Linked DNA regions of Homo sapiens. Each later gene encodes a partner of the first gene's protein in a complex. Each region holds a gene or a part of one and is shown on either strand. Other genes may lie near its edges. The genes, in order: RASSF5 and STK3. A codon is read from its position in the direction of its gene.

Evidence for each region.
Region 2: the proteins of RASSF5 (region 1) and STK3 are in contact, whole or in part, in a crystal structure (PDB 4LGD), measured with the Homo sapiens proteins. Residues at the interface, in NP_872604.1 of Homo sapiens: Trp369 (codon at 1,480), Asp370 (codon at 1,477), Ala371 (codon at 1,474), Phe372 (codon at 1,471), Ile374 (codon at 1,465), Leu377 (codon at 1,456), Gln378 (codon at 1,453), Phe380 (codon at 1,447), Leu381 (codon at 1,444), Leu384 (codon at 1,435), Glu385 (codon at 1,432), Glu387 (codon at 1,426), Glu388 (codon at 1,423), Lys391 (codon at 1,414), Ile392 (codon at 1,411), Val395 (codon at 1,402), Gln396 (codon at 1,399), Lys398 (codon at 1,393), Tyr399 (codon at 1,390), Phe402 (codon at 1,381), Arg403 (codon at 1,378), Lys405 (codon at 1,372), Leu406 (codon at 1,369), Ala409 (codon at 1,360), Leu410 (codon at 1,357), Ser413 (codon at 1,348); in NP_006272.2 of Homo sapiens: Phe437, Phe439, Leu440, Leu445, Leu448, Gln449, Arg451, Leu452, Leu455, Asp456, Met458, Met459, Glu462, Ile463, Leu466, Arg467, Tyr470, Lys473, Arg474, Pro476, Ile477, Leu478, Ala480, Met481, Lys484, Gln488.

Annotation. Positions count from the first base shown.
Region 1 is NC_000001.11:206,579,757-206,588,305, reverse strand, and holds part of RASSF5 (ras association domain-containing protein 5), read right to left. Parts: exon of another isoform or gene 7,206-8,549; coding exon of another isoform or gene 7,144-7,205; intron 5,038-7,143; coding exon 4,927-5,037; intron 3,920-4,926; coding exon 3,622-3,919; intron 3,127-3,621; coding exon 3,011-3,126; intron 1,481-3,010; coding exon 1,328-1,480; 3' UTR 1-1,327. UniProt on the Homo sapiens protein: Potential tumor suppressor. Seems to be involved in lymphocyte adhesion by linking RAP1A activation upon T-cell receptor or chemokine stimulation to integrin activation.
Region 2 is NC_000008.11:98,703,251-98,711,799, forward strand, and holds part of STK3 (serine/threonine-protein kinase 3), read right to left. Parts: intron 4,062-8,549; coding exon 3,897-4,061; intron 3,385-3,896; coding exon 3,217-3,384; intron 1-3,216. UniProt on the Homo sapiens protein: Stress-activated, pro-apoptotic kinase which, following caspase-cleavage, enters the nucleus and induces chromatin condensation followed by internucleosomal DNA fragmentation.

The DNA.
Region 1 (8,549 bases):
AAAACTCAGGCACCCAGATGGGAGGGAGGTCTGTGACCCTCAACCCATACTGAACGCGGGCTCTCCTGGCCTTGTCTCCCACACCGCCGCCATTGTTCACTTCCTGGCAGGAGAAGCCAGCAGCAGAGCTTCAGGCAAACTCGCCCTACTCCTATTTCTCTCTGAAAACAAAAAGGCACTGAGGTCGACGGGGAGGCCAGGCCCACCGGCTCTCCGAGCGCAGTGCCGGGTCTGGCCCATGCTTCAAAACAGAAAGGACTCCAAGTTGGCCGAATTGGAGGCTCCCCTCTCTGTAATCAAGGCAACTCCTTGGGCAGCACCTGGAGATCCCAGAGTCGCAGTGGGAGGAGGGAGGCAGTGCTGGAGGCCGATGGGGAACCCAAGTAGCCCAGGCCCTCCTCTGCTCTTTAGCTGGGGAAGGCTGAAGACAGCTTGGACACCTTTCTCTGCATTGCTTTTTGGCTTTCTCTTACTGTCTGATTTCCATACTTAGCAGGAGACTTTTTAAATGGTCAATGACTGGCTTCCCTTTGGGGAAACACATGACGATGATGACAACATTAAATTCAAATTTGTAACTTAAAAACGAACAGTTTGTTGACAAAGATGTGACTAAGTACCACACATACGCAGATATATGCCTTTGGGTTTCCATGTGCAATGTGGGCCAGGGCCAGAGCCAGGGCCAGGGCAGGCTGCAGCTTCTCTGGAGATCTCTGAGCCAGCCTCAGCTTTGGTGCTCCTTACCCTGAGCATCTGGGGCCAGTAGCTTTATAAACTTCCCTTAAGTGTGAACAACAGGCACCTTGGGGCCGCGGGAACAGTCCTTTTATGAGCATTACCCTGCTTTCAGGGGCTTAGCTCAGACCTGCAAAAGGAATGTGCTACAACTTTTCACTCATAAATAATGGTCCTGTACGTGGCAAGTAAGAGAACTCAAAGAGGAATCAATGCCAGAGAAAGAACACACAGCTCTAAAACCTTTCTTCCTTCCTTTGCCGGCTGGTGTGAGGTTCCAGTTTGGTGACGAGAGAGGCAACTATTTGGTTGGTGAAAGGCTTGCAGATCGAGAGAGGACGTCAGCTGTTTGTTTCACATGAGTTCTGATCCTTGGCAGAATCTGTGGTGGGGCACAGCCTGGGGGCGGGCACAGCTGAACCCTCGTGCAAACACTTGTCCATGGAAGAGACTTTTGCCACAGCTGGAACTGCTGGGCAGGCACAAATGCACCTGCCAGAGATGTCCTGAGAAAAAGTGTCTGTTGCAAAATAATAATTAATAATACAAATAAATCTGAATGCACCAGGAGGAGAGGAAGCAGGACCGGTTACCCAGGTTTGCCCTGGGATTCTCTTAAGGCCTCCTCCAGTTTCTGCCTAAACTTGTCATACTTCTTTTGCACTTGTTGGATTTTGTCCTGCTCCTCTTTTTCCAGGATTGTTAGGAAGTTCTGAAGTTCAGGGATGGAGAAGGCATCCCACTGTGAGGCGAGAGGGAGATTTGTGGGAAGAAACAGAATAGGAGACAGGTTAGAAGTTGACACGACCTGAGAGACCCTGCTGCCTTCCCCTTCCCAGTTCACATCCGTGATTCACACACAGTTTGCTACTGAACAGACTGAATCAGCGAAGCCTGGGCTTTGCATGCCTGTCATAGCAGCAACAAAATTCCAAATGCTGGCATCTCATGACCAAGAGTTGCCAGTCTATGAACCATGTTTTTATTTTGAAACTCAATAATCTTAAGTTTCTGTGTAGCAGCCGAGATCTTGACAGTGATGCTGGAACCACCCAGCCTCCCAACATGCAGACCCTCAGAAAGCAGGTGGAGGAGTGGAACGTGGACTCAGGAGACCGGGGTTGGGCCTGACTCCACCTCTCCCAGCAGTGTGACCTCGAGCACAGCTTTCCACCCTTCTCAGCCTGTTATCTGCTGGGAAATTGGGGTATCTACCTCCCATGACTGGCAGAGCAGATAATGAGAGCCTGACTGGCCCAGGCCTACCCCTAAAGGACTTGGCCTCTGATGGCAGAAGGCAATTTGGACTTCCATCAGGCTGACCCAAGAGCACAAGCCCTGTGCGGCCAACAATTGAGACTCCTAAGCTCTTTGAGCACAATAGAGTACTAAGGTTTATCTGGTTTGGTCCTCGCTATGGATAAGTGAGAAACCTCAAGTCCACACAGGGAAGGTGGCGTAATCACAATCACAGAGCTCATTGCAGCAGAACTGGAACTAGAGCCCAGGTCTCCACACTTCAAAGTGCCTGAGCTTTCCACAGGGCCAGCAGCATTCAGCTACTGTCCATGGAGTACTTTTTCCAAACATATTCTGCACAGATGCCAATAAAGAAAGCAGATGGGAGCAGAGCGGCCCTTGCTGAAATGGGGAGAAGGGACAGAGTCCCAGCTGCCTTGATCCCTAAATCTCCGCAGTGACTCCCAAAACTCCTTAAAACTCTAGGCCTCCACTGAACACAGTGTGACAAACACTGAGACCTTCCCCTGTTGGTCATTCTCAGGCCATGGGTGGCACCGGCCTGGTTTTACTCCAGTTTATGCCACAAGACTACACACTGGTTAGCTCCCCTTGGGGGATGGAGGTCAAGAAAAGGGAGGACAAATGGCTCAAAAACGTCTATACCCAGTGGAGCCCAGAGATGGAGCTTGGTAGCCCTCGGGCCATTTTGAAGCAAAAACAGCCTGTGCCTGAGCACAGGGAGTTTCTTGGTCCCCCTCCTCCCTGAGTTTTCAGAAATAAAGCACATGAAATCCTTTCTTTCCACAGGCCTTGCCACACACAGGCCCTAATGTGCTACCCCAGGGTGTTCAGAGTCCTGGCTGAAACACTGACCCCCAGGCCCATCACCCACCCCTGCTCACTCTCTCAACAGTCACCTTCCTGCCCGTGCTGCGTGGCTCCCACCTATGTGAGGTAGTTAGGACAACACCCACCTGCACCCACCCAGGGTGCCCTAAGGCCTGGGTTTGCACAATGGGTCCAGACCTACCTCTACCTCTCCAGTTTCATTCTCCTTTAGCACAAAGCTGAGGACCTCCGTGTCAGGCCCAGCAAGCAGGCGCAGGTAGAGGGGGCGGTCAGCAATGGAGAGTTTCTGGAAGAGCACTGCAAACCAAGAGAGGGTGCTGGGAGCTCTTCCCAGAAAAGAAGGGCGGGGCCCAGGCTTGCGGGAAAGGATTGGAAATGCAGAGGTGGGGTACGTACAACTGGAAGTAGACACGGGCCTTTTAATGAAATGAACATGACAGTAATGAACAGGGCAATAACCTTTTATCTTGGGTGTCTGCTCAGAGTTTAAAGCATGATTCCATTCACATCATCTCCTGAAAGATTAGGAATGGTGGGGCAGATTCCTCCCATTGCACAGATCAGGAAATGGGAGCCTAGGGTGTGGTTTTCCTGAAGTCACATGCAGAGTCAGGGACTCTGCTCTTGCCTCCCTGCCCGGATTCCACAGATCTGAACACCACATGGGCAGCTGGACCCCTGGTGCTCAGGAGAAGCCCACAGCTCCCACCCAAGGCCGGCAGGAGTTTTAGTGGGTGGGCTTGGACACAGGTAGGAAGGGAACGGTCTGGTTGGGTTCACTCTTTCTCCTACCTTGTCCGTCCTTGTGTATCCGCTTAAAAAGTGCAAACTTCTGGGGATTGTCCACAACCATGAACTTCTTGAGCAGCCCCTGGATGACCTCACTGACGGTGGTGGTGCTGCTGATGTGCAGCTGCTTGATGGCATCTAGGGGCAGGTAGAAGGATGTCCGCTTGTCCGTGGTAGCCGCCAGGTTCACCTCCTTGATGGCATCATAGATGGACTGGGGCCGGATCCCAGCAGGCACCGTCACAGGCCGCCGGAGTTTCAGATGCACTTTGATGAAACCCGTGTAGGTGCCGTCTTCACTCTGCCAGCGGGGGCATGTCACAGGGGGTCAGGGCCGTCCGCCTTGCATGATCATATCTGCCACTCGGGGCCATTGCCCCAGCAGCACCCACCTGTCTCCTTGAGTTCTTTCCTGCCTCTGCTGACGTGGGAGAGCTGGAGGAAGGAGCAGAGATCCCTTTCCCCATAGTGGGCTGGGAGAAGACCCTCAGGATCCAGCTACCAAAGAGGACCTGTGGGGCTGCAGTGGATTTCCCTCCCAGGAGGCTCAGGCCAGCTCCCTAAACCTCCTGTAACCAGTTGCCTTTGGTGAGTGCCCATTGTAAGAGGCAGGGTGTGGGGTAGCCACTCTAGTTTGTACCTCTGAACCAGGCAGGAAGCAGGAAGGCTCTATAATGAGGGCCTTGGAGAACCAGCCCACTAGATTTCCTCCTGTATCTCTTTACTAAGAAACAGCCTTTAAGACTTAAACCTAGGTGCATTTGTGACTGGATTTTCTGGTGCTCCATCTGGCTGAACCCCAAAGAGCCAGCTGATGCCAGCCACCAGCAGGGGGCAGTGTTTTTCTACCTTCTCCCCTCCCTATTGAAGACAGCCTTTCCCAACTGGGTGCTAAGTTGGGTGCCCTCCCCTCTCTGAGAGAGTATGTCCCTCTCTCACAATCGAAGGGGTAGGAAGGGGAGCAACTAAGTCCCATTGTCCTGGCTCCCTGGAGGCCAAGCAATACTGGGCCCTTGGTCATTACGTACCGTTTAATCACTTAGTTTACACTGAAGCTCAGAGGAGGAGTTAAAAGAGCTTCCCAAAATCACAAGCAAAAAATGAGAGTCAGATCTATTTCCCTAAAGCACATGGAGGCCACTGAGGGCTCTGGCTATCAGCCTTCCAGACCCCGGAGGCCTCTGGAGGCCGGAGGAAAGGGAGGGGACCTGCCAGGGAGTAGCCACAGAATTCAGAGTGAGGGCAGAGGCGCCAAACCCGAAGCGGGTGGTGGAGCAGGGGCCAGGTTGAGGGTGGACGGGCGCTTACCAGTTTCATGCCCAGGCAGTTCTTCTCTCGCGTGTTGTAGCTGTCGATCTTCTGCTTGATCTCCTGCAGTGTGGGCGGGCGCTGTGTCTCCTCCACAGGTTTACAGACATTCTGGAAGAGACACAGAAGTGGAGGTGGATGTGTAGTAGTTCTCAGGGTGAGAAAGGGAACAACCACGCCCTCCCCAAAGCCTCTCTAACCAAGAAGTGAGCATCCAGCCCTGCAGAGTGGAACTAACTGCACGGACTCGGAGTGAGACAATGAGAGGTCAAATTGCAGCTGTGCCAGTGTCTAGCCAGCCCTCCTGGAGAAGTAACTCAGATTTCTCTAAGCCTCAGTCTCCTCATCTGTGAAATGGGAACAATACCTACTGCACAGGCTTGTCTTGAGATTAGTGTGAAAGCGTCTGGCACTCAGGCACTGACTATGAATCTGGTGAATGAGCAGAGCCGCATTTGCTTATGGAAAGCTGCTATGGAAAAGATGCTTCTTTGATGCTATGGGAGATGCAAAGAAATACAAGCCATGGTCTGTCTCCTCAAGGAAGTAACAACACAGCTGGAGGGACAGGCGTCTACCCATGGTGCCAGTATATACTACTGATCGGGAAGACAAGAATTCTCTTAGATCCCAAGGACCAAGGACACATAGAGACCAGTCCAGGCCCCACATCACTTGCCACAGTGCTTTTCACATAGCAAGAAGTAAATATCTATTTGTCAAATGAACGAGTGAACTGGCAGGGATGAAGGGCTGTAGCCCCCTCTACCATAAAAGAGGAGATAAACCGCTACTGGGCACAGGGACACCTAGAATTTACTTAGCACTTCTTCTGTGCCAAGTACTTGGCATACATTATCTCATATGATTCTCACAAACCAGAAGTCTGTAAGATAGTTTATTACCCCATCTTACAGGTGAGACTATTGAGACTAAGAGAAGTTTAGCAACCTGCCTCACACCCTACAGTCAGTATGTACAGAATGAAACAGAAATTCCAGGTCTGTCCCATTGTGTTCCTCCTGTGAGACCATGTGTTCATTCTTCTCATATGTTCCCAGATGCCCTCCTCCTCCCACCCCCTGGGAAGGATAAGTGAACAATGAAATTGAGGAGATTGAGGTCAATGGCCCTCACCTTGTAGAGACAATACAGGGGTGAATTCTGGGGTCGAAGCCACTGTCCCTCAGTCAGTTCTCTGGCTCTCTCTCAAGTTCACTGTTACCCACCTCCCGGTTTTATCTTCACACTGTCCCTGAGTGGCTGGGAGTGTGGGAACTGGTTGGTCAGAACCCACCCAGAATTTGCCTGACGTTCAAGTGTAGCAGACTTGGGGTGGATCAGGATTCTCCTTTGGTAAATGAGGAAACTGAGGCCCAGTGAGGGATGACTCTGACACCATCTGACACTGTCCTGTGGGTGTCTGGGTTTGGCTGGGGAATTTCACAGCTGCCGCGACGTCACATCACCACCCCGCGGAACACAACAGGGCCCCCCCTCCGTGACAGAGCTTTGCCCTACCTTCCTCCCTTCAGCAAGCCATGTGGGAGACACGCCACCCTGAACAACCTGCCATCACTTCCTTCCACTTTCCAATCCCACAGAACCGATGCAATGTCAGGCTCTGGCTGCCAAGAGGAGCTGGCGTGGCTCCAGCCTCCCACCTCCAACCCCTCAGCACAGCTGACATCCTCCTTTCTTTCTTTCCTTCCTTCCTTCCTTTTCTTTCTCTCTCTCTCTCTCCCCCCTCTCTCTCTGTCTCTCTCTCTTTCTTTCTTTCTTTTCTTTCGTCTCCCTCTGTCACCCAGGCTGGAATGCAGTGGCACGATCTTGGCTGACTGCAATCTCTGCCTCCCAGGTTCAAGCAATTCTCCTGCCTCAGCCTCCCAAGTAGCTGGGATTACAGGTGCGCACCACCACACCCAGCTAATTTTTGTATTTTTTAGTAGAGACGGGATTTCACCATATTGGCCAGGCTGATGTCGAACTCCTGACCTCAAATGATCCATCCGCCTTGGCCTCCCAAAGTGCTGGCATTACAGGTGTGAGCCACCGCACCCAGCTTCTGACATCCTCTTTCCATCATGGCATCGTTCCCTGGCCTGTCTGCTCCCGCTGTACTCTCCCCAAGGGGTCCTGACCTATTAATAACAGCCTGTGCTGGGTACTTTCACATACCTTCTCTTACATACTATGTATGTCATTCTTATTTCACAGATAACAAAACTGAGGCTGAGTTTAAGAAACATGCCTGTGGTCCCCTGCTAGTAAGAAGCTAAGTAGGAACTGGAATCAAATCCATCTAAGGCCCATGCTCTTCTCAATTCACCATGTAGCCACCATGGGACGGCATCTTTTGCTGAAGGGGCCGGCCTGCCACACCCATAATGATCACTGAAACTCTGTGCTGCGGGGCTGGGATGAGCAGCTGTTAAACCAAAGCCTGTAAGTTACCTGATCTGTGAAATGTTCATCTAAGATGAGTCTAAGCAGCGGGTCAGGCCCCAGAGGCACCATGTCACCTGTGAAGGTGGGAAGGAAGGACTTCTAACTCAAGTGAGATGCAGCCACCAGGATGCAGGGCCCAGCCTTCTCCTGTGTGCCTTCCCAGGTCTCTGGAACTGAACCTTGATTCTGTTGCAGACCACCCAAGGGCAAGCAGCTCTGGCCATCTCCCACTTGCCGGAGGTGAGTAGCAAGTAGTGTGAGCCTCACAGACTCTCTTCATTCACTGTCAGTCCATTAACCCGGGGACTCTCACAGTGAAGCCTCTCATTTTCCTCATCCCTTCCCTTGGGTAGCTCCCAGAGCTCCCCATCCTCAGTCCTTGCCAGCTGAGCACATGTCTATGGGACCAGATGTGCCTGACCCTGGCCCTACCCCTATACCTTCCCGCTGGGAGCTTCTAATTAGAAAGACCCCGTTGTCTGGTTACTATTATACACTCACTCTGTCTCTGACGCATGTAGGCTATTGCTCCTCAGGAGGTAATAGCTTTCTCATACTTGTCTATAAAAAATAAGTAATGGAAAGAAAATTCTAGAAGCTTCGGAAAGATCTCCTCTCATAGTTTCCAATCAAGCTAGAGCCATTTCCCCGTAAGAAAAGGCAGCTGTGCTGTGGCTTTCAAAGGCTTGATTTTGAATACAGTGAGAAGCAAAGCTGCCTTAGCCTAGGGTTTCTTCTTCCTGTTCCCCTTTCTTCAGCAGATAGACCCATCTATCTCTCCCCTTCCCACCACAAACGCGGGGAAGTGACGCAAGTGGCCACAGGCACCTCTGCCTTCCAGGGCTGACTCAAAAGACAGCAGCCCTGACCTCACCATTCTGAGGCCTGGCCCTCTGGCTGGTGATGGGAAGCCCTGTCTGGGAGTGCCAGGAGCCCCGTGTGTAGCCAACACTACGAATGTCACAGCCATGGAATGCCAGCACCCAGGTCTGGGATGGCTGCTGCCCACAAAAATATCTGGCAGACAAGATGTGACCCATGGACCAAATGAATCACCTCCTGAATTAGGCCAGCCAGCCACAGCCACGAGGGCTCACGGATCCTTTTTCCACCCAAGAGATGGCGTATAATCCAGACCAGTGGTTCTTAAACTTGTCTGCACAGTGCAATCATCT
Region 2 (8,549 bases), on another chromosome or scaffold:
GTCTAGGCAAAAACACAGAACAAACTGAGTTCATATCTCAGTTCTGCCACTGACAAGTTATGTCATCTTAAATAACATAATCTTATCCATTTCATCCAATCCACCCAATGGAGGATAAAATATTTATTTCACAAAATTACTACAGTACAAAAAAAAATGTTGGTAAAAAACTTCAATATTTCACTCACTTACCATAGTGTCATATCCTACCAGCTTTCTCATATCTTAACTACCACTTTATCTCCTCTCTAACCTCCTGAGATTCTGATTTAATCTGTTTAGGGTAGGGCTCCCCACATGACGGCTATGCAGCAAGCATGGAGAACACTACCTATTCTTTGATCACCCCATTTCCTTACACTCTCTCTTTTCTTTCCAGACTGTGCCCTGTTAGTAACCCCTTGAACTGTCTCTCAGCAGCATCCTTAAATTCCCTATAGCCCCATCCTTCTAAGACACTCATTCATTAAAACCCAAACCCTCCATATCAAGGCCATAATGCATTCTACTGCACAGCAGAGCACACTACCATAGGAAGGCCCACAAACCAGGATTAATTACACTATACTTTCCCAATTACCAATTTTAGCTGGGCCCTCAACAATTTTTCTCTCTTGGACAGCTCTTTCTTTCATTGCCCTCACTATACCCCCCACAAAACTACTGTAAACCTTGATGAAACAGTAAAGTTTATTAATTCTATTAAATTTCTACACTTGAATATGTATTTTTAATATTCTACATTGACAAAATGGAAAATATGCATAAAGCACTTCCCCACATATCAAAGAACAACAATAATCTGAAAAAAAGCAGTTGTGTGACTGAGCTGCAAGCTAAATAAACTACAAGGCTCTTTTCAAAGAACATCATTTTTACTTGAAGAATAACTAACAGAAAACTAAGGTTACACAGACTTGGGTATTTGACAGACATTTTCTCAAAAAGGAACCAAGTGAACCTGTCATTTCAAGGAAAACAAAAGGCAGTACTTGTTACCAGTGATAAAACTATCTGTTACATGATCTCAACAGCTTCCAATACTTGCAGTTCAATACTCTACTTTGTAAGACAGCTCACAAACACAAGAAAAGTTAAATAATGATATTATTTAAATAGGAAATAAACTATATTATGTTTGGAAATGCACGAGGCAACACTTGATTAACTGTCCAAAGAACTGGACTGTGAAGAAATTGCCTATATACAAAATATGAGGAAAAAGAGAAATTTACTTGGGCGATAGCTGTCAAGAATGGCTCTACACAGGCATAAAATCCAAGTTGGGACTTGAAAAACTGGTAGGATTTAGATTTAAAAAAAAAAAAACAGTGAGCAAGGCATCCTAGGAAGTTTGCAATACAGGTATATTTTTTTCTAAAAGAAATATTATTTTCAGGTATATTTTTAATAATGTATAATGTATTCATTCAAACTCTCAGGTAATATTAGAAGATCCTTAAAGGAAGAGGCCACATATTACAATTCTCTGCTATCTGAGCACAGGATCAAATTTAACATGTTGAACTATTTGGTTGGAAAAATAAGATTTACACAGGGAAGAAGCAGAATAGTAATAATGGAAGTCCTAAGTTAAATCCCAGCTCTTGTACTTACCTAGGTTGCCTTGGGTAATTTAGTAAACCTCACTGATTCAAACTCAAATACACCTACTTTGAGGATCACCCTACAAACATCCTAACTAAAAGAACCACAGATAACTAATGATCAGAGATGAAATAAGACTTTGTGTTCCTGTTTTTATGCTGACCTTGTTGTTTTTCAAGTTATTTTCAAACAATTGATGCATTTTTATCTTTCATTTACCAAAAGGAATTTATATACACCAGGAAGATGATACATATTGTATACAATTACATTACTCAAAGAACTCTAGGCTGGGCACACTGCTGTAATCCCAGCACTTTGGGAAGCTGAGGTGGGCGGATCGCTTGAGCCCAGAAGTTGGAGACCAGCCTGGGCAACATGGCGACACCTTGTCTCTACAAAAAATTAGTTGGGCATGGTGGTGCATACCTATAGTCCCAGCTACTCTGCAGGCTGAGGTGGGAGGATCACCTGAGCCCAGGAGGTCGAGGCTCGAGTGAGCCATGATCGCACTACTACAATCCAGGCTGGGTGACAGAGTGAGACCTTATCTCAAAAGAAAAAAAAAAAAAACTCTCTTTAAAATGTTTCAATACAGCAGACAGATTTTTAAATATTTTCTGTATAATACACTGTTACCTATATTATCGAAATTTAACCCACAATGGCATTATAATATCAGATGTAATTCCAATTTATTCTTCTTCAGATATTCTAAAATATCTGAATTTTTATGCATTCTTCCTCTTTCTATCTATTTACTTCACATTCCTCCAGCCACCATGATATTATCTTCTCTTTTCTACAAATACACACATACATACACTCCTCCCCTCATTCCTACATCCTTATTGAGATAACTACAGCCACTAGAGGGCAATAAGTATACAAAGATCAGTGTACCTATTTATGATGATGAACTTATCTATATGATTCACATAGTAATAAACCTAAAAAGTATATCATCACAAACCCTGAAACACAGGCAATTAGACTTGAATATGCAAAATATATATTTCAAACTCAAAAATTATCCTGCAGAGTTCACAGAAGCATATAATGATGTTCAAAAAAGGAATTCCATTTTCTCAGCATGCATTCATTAAAAAAAATTAGCCGAATTCCTTTATATGTGCATAGTAATATTAGAAATTAGGATTGCTTAATACCATCCTCAGACCAAAGAAGAGAAAAGGCAGAAAAAAAAAAACACACAGTAAGGTATAAATCACAGAGTGGGTAAAAAAGTGAGAAATGATTACTTCCAACTCTTTCACTACCACAATCAAGAAAACAATAAACTGAAGAGCAAAGAGGATTTACCAACCCTTTCTTCTATTGAAAAGCAAGCAAAAATTTTACAAGTATATTTTTGGGGGAGGAGAACAGTGATGGTAGAGATATACAAAGCCTTCAGTTCTTTTCTCACAATTAAGAATGCAGAAGGAAGAGAAGTTAACAGTTACTAATCTTTAAGAGGTAATTTTACCATTTTTAAAAAGAATACATTTAAATGAACTTATTTAGTTTATATTTACTTACATTGACATTACAAAACGGCAACACTTATATAAGGCTAACATTTTCAGCAAACCATAATTTTCTTACCCTCATTGGATGTATATCAGCATAAGGAGGTTTTCCTTCAGCCATTTCTATAGAAGTAATGCCAAGGGACCAGATGTCGGCCACACAGTTATAGCCTATTTCTTGAATCACCTCAGGAGCCATCCAAAATGGAGTTCCTATTACAGTATTGCGTTTTGCCATTGTATCCTGCAATAATGTTACATAGCCATAAATGCTACTACAAAAGCACAAAGGAAATCTGTATGCCAAACATACTTTTAAAAAATGTTAAAACCTCCAATGCCACAGATTATATCAGAAATTGACTATTTTGCTAAAATTTCAACTAGTTATGACATACTTAGGAATTCCGAATTCTGAAAATAACCAAGAGTCCACAGGTAACTTATCCACACTACCATCATTAAACACAGTCATTAAAGATAGTGCTACAATGATAAAAGCTACAGAAATGAGCTACGTAGCTTCCCTTTTAGAACATTTAAGCATTTTGATTATAAGATATATTTTCACATTCAATCACCCTAAATTATAAATTAAATAATACTCAAATTTGGCTCAATTATGGTTCCTTCTCCACAAAAATTAAAAAACTACACATTTCTTTCCATTCCCCCTCAAAAAGTAATTGAAGTTTAGTTATAATCAAATCTGAACAAATTAGCCAAGTGTTTAGAAAACCATTAAAGTTAACTTACTGTTAACTGACCAGCCACTCCAAAATCTGCCAATTTTGCATGTCCTTCTGTATTGAGGAGAATATTTCCAGCTTTTATATCTCTGTGTATTTTTCTCATAAAGTGCAAATATTCTAGTCCTTTCAATGTAGATTTAAGAATGGTTGCAATTTCATCTTCTATTAACTGGAAAGAAATATTTTTAAAACCATAATTAAAATGCCACGTTAGATAAAATCTTACGAAAGAGCACTAGTAACAAGTATGTCTTTCCGTGTGTGTGTGTGTGTTTTTTTTTAAGAGACCCCACTCTGTTGCCCAGGCTACAGTGCAGTGGTGTGATGATAGCTCACTGCAGCCTAAAATTCCTGGGCTCAAGGCATGCTCCCACCTCAGCTTCCCGAGTAGCTAGAACTACAGGCACATGCCAACCCAATAGGCTAACTTATTTTTATTTTTGTAGAGATGGGGATCTCGCTATGTTGCCCGGGCTGGTCTTGAACTCTTTGCTTCAAACAATTCTCCTTCCTCAGCTTCCCAAAGTGTTGGGATTATAGGTGTGAGCCACCATGCCTAGCCACAAGTACTTCTTTCTAATGACCGCTAAACCTCCAGGAAAATGCTAAAGGGGTAAATAATCGAGAACCTCTTCTTCCCACAATAAGCTTTCTTATTACACATTTTACTAATGAAAGGATGATCAAATTTCTCTCTTTAAGATTATCAGTATCAGCAGGGCGTGGTGGCTCACACCTGTAATCCCAGCACTTTGGGAGGCTGAGGCGAGCAGATCACTTGAGGTCAGGAGTTCAAAACCAGCCTGGCCCACATGGTGAAACCTCGTCTCTACTAAAAATACAAAAATTAGCCAGGCGTGATGGCGTGCACTTGTAATCCCAGCTACTCAGGAGGCTGAGGCAGGAGAGTCACTTGAACCTGGGAGGCAGAGGTTGCAGTGAGCTGAGATCACATCACTGCATGCCAGCCTGGGCGACACAGCGAGACTCCATCTCAAAAAAAAAAAAAAATTATCAGTATCATTCCTAAAGCAAACAACATATCTCAAGAATCAGCCTGATATAAGGAATCATAATAGTGATTTCCCACATCTTCTAATACTGGGAGGGCACTATCACAGCTAATATCTGTTCTGAAAAAGTAAATTCAGATACTTCCCCTGAGATATTTCAGATTCTTGATGAAAATGAAACCAACAGCTTTACATAAAGGAAAGTAAATGAGGGAGGGAGGCTTGCAATGAATCTTCTGCGAGAAGCTCCTACACCAATGCCACTCCTAACCCTTCCAAGTTCTGGACTTCTGACCTAATATTGAGAACTCAGAAGAAAAAACGTCAGAGAAAGATTAGGAAAATGGAAACACAAGCAAAGACTATCAGAGGAGGGAAAAAGGGGAGAGTAGAGAAGGCCGAGGAAGAGACGGATGGGAAAGAAAGAAAATCTTCTTAACAGTTGTAGCAGTAGAGCCACTGCTATCTGTACCAGGCAATGTGCTAAGAGTTATGCATGCATTCTCTCATTTATTCTTAAAACAACCTTGTAAGGTAGTGTGATATTATGAAATCACAGGAAATATTTGGTCTTTGTAGGTTCTTGGCACAAAATCTCCTAAGACCCTGTGAATTGACTGAGTGAGTGAGAAGTTGAATCAAGATATTTTATCTTTGTTTTCTCACCCTCTCACAAGAGTGAGAGGGGCTGTCTTTTGTCATTCATAATAAGCTCCTTTCAACCATACCAGAATTTATACTGATCAGGTGACTCTTGGTGGGAGCCTAGATAGCTTCAGGATGGGAGCTGGTTGCCGAAAAAACCAACCAAGTGATTAGATGTTTGGAAATTTCTGCCTGACCCCTGACTTACGGGAGGGCTGCAAGGAGAGAGGGGGTAGAGATTTAGTTAAGCACAAATGTCCAAAGACTTAATCAATCATGCCTATGTAACAGAATCAACCATAAAAATTCTAAATGATTAGGGACTGCTCTCAAGCTTATATTCTATCTATAAGCAACGGGATAATTTGATAGAAAATAGGATAACACAGGAAAATGTCTGTGAAAATTGCTATGAGGACAACAATAGAGAGCTACTGATAGAGAACGACTGAGAAGCTACTTTAGATTGACATTCAAGAAGGCCCAAAAGACATTTTACTGAAGTCTAAATGATATAATGGGGCCAACCATGTGAATGGCTATCTGGGAACATACACTCCACAAAAAGGAAAAAAAAAGATTAAAATATCTTGATTCAACTTCTCAAATTTTCTAAAACACTGAAGAAAAGAGAACACTTCCACACTCATTTTAAGAGGCATTATTCTGATATCAAAGCCAGACAAAGTTACCACAAAACAACTAAGACCAATATCCCTTATGAACATTGATACAAAAATCCTCAACAAAATATAGCACACTCACTTCAACAGGATTGTAACAGGTTATACACTATGACCAACTGGAATGTATTCCTGGAATGCAAGGTTGATTCAACATACAAAATCGAACAATGCAATACACCACCTTAACAGAATGGAGAAGAAACCACATGATCATTTCAAATGAAAACAGAAAAAGCATTTGATTAAATTTAACTTCTTTTCATAAAACACACAACTAATATGAATAGAAGGAAACTATCTCACCATAGTAAAAGCCATATACAAAAAACCCAAAGTAAATGTCATACTCAAAGCAGTAAGACTGAAAGCTTTTCCACAAAGATCAGGAACAATGAAAGGATGCTATTAGGTTGGTGCAAAAGTAATCGCAGTTTTTGCCATTTTTTTTTTAAAGTAATGGCAAAAACCGAAATTACTTTTGCACCAGCCTAATACTTCTGTTACATATAGTACTGGAGGTTCTAGACAGAGCAATTAGGGAAGAAAAACAAATAAAGGCATCCAAACTGGAAAAAAAGAAGTAAAATTATCTCTGTTCACAGATGATATGATCATATATGTAGAAAATTCTAAAGATTCCACAAAAAAAACCTATTAGAACTAATAAATAGGGATGGAGACAAGACGGCTGAATAGGAACAGCTCCAGTCTAAAGCTCCCAGCGTGAGCATTGCAGAAGACACATGATTTCTGCATTTCCAACTGAGGTACCAGATTCATCTCACTGGGGAGTATCGGAAAGTGGGTGCAAGACAGTGGGTACAGTGCACTGAGCATGAGCTGAAGCAGGGCGGGGCATCACCTCACCTGGGAAGTGCAAGGGGTCAGGGAATTCCCTTTCCTAGTCAAAGAAAGGGGTGACAGATGGCACCTGGAAAATCAGGTCACTCCCACCCTAATACTGTGCTTTTCCAATGGTCTTAGCAAACGGCACACCAGGAGATTATATCCCGCGCCTGGCTTGGAGGGTCCTACACCCATGGAGCCTCGCTCACTGCTAGCACAACAGTGTGAGATCAAACTGCAATGCGGCAGCGAGGCTGGGGGAGGGGCGCCTGCCATTGCCCAGGCTTGAGTAGGTAAACAAAGCAGCCAGGAAGCTCAAACTGGGTGCAGCCCACCACAGCTCAAGGAGGCTGGCCTACCTCTGTAGACTCCACCTCTGGGGGCAGGGCATAGCCAAACAAGGCAGCAGAAACGTCTGCAGACTTAAATGTCCCTGTCTGACATCTTTGAAGAGAGTAGTGGTTCTCCCAGCACACAGCTGGAGATCTGAGAACAGACAGACTGCCTCCTCAAGTGGGTCACTGACCCCCAAGTAGCCTAACTGGGAGGCAGCCCCAAGTAGGGGCAGACTGACACCTCACACAGCCCGGTACTCCTCTGAGACAAAACTTCCAGAGGAACGATCAGGCAGCAACATTTGCTGTTCACCAATATCCACTGTTCTGCAGCCTCCATTGCTCATACCCAGGCAAACAGAGTCTGGAGTGGACCTCCAGCAAACTCCAACAGACCTGCAGCTGAGGGTCCTGACAGAAGGAAAACTAACAAACAGAAAGGACATCCACACCAAAACCCCATCTGTACATCACCATCATCAAAGACCAAAGGTAGATAAAACCACAAAGATGCAGAAAAAACAGAGCAGAAAAACTGGAAACTCTAAAAATAAGAGTGCCTCTCCTCCTCCAAAGGAACACAGCTCCTCACCAGCAATGGAACAAAGCTAGACAGAGAGTGACTTTGACAAGCTGAGAGAAGAAGGCTTCTGATGATCGAACTACTCCGAGCTAAAGGAGAAGTACGAACCCAGGCAAAGAAGTTAAAAACCTTGAAAAAAAAATTAGACAAATGGCTAACTAGAATAACCAATGCAGAGAAGTCCTTAAAGGACCTGATGGAGCTGAAAACCAAGGCACGAGAACTACGTGACAAATGCACAAGCCTCAGTAGCCGATTCAATCAACTGGAAGAAAGGGTATCAGTGATGGAAGATCAAATGAATGAAATGAAGTGAGAAGAGAAGTTTAGAGAAAAAAGAATAAAAAGAAATGAACAAAGCCTCCAAGAAATATGGGACTAGGTGAAAAGACCAAATCTATGTCTGATTGGTGTACCTGAAAGTGATGGGGAGAATGAAACCAAGTTGGAAAACACTCCGCAGGATATCATCCAGGAGAACTTCCTCAACCTACCAAGGCAGGCTACCATTGAAATTCAGGAAATACAGAGAACGCCACAAAGATACTC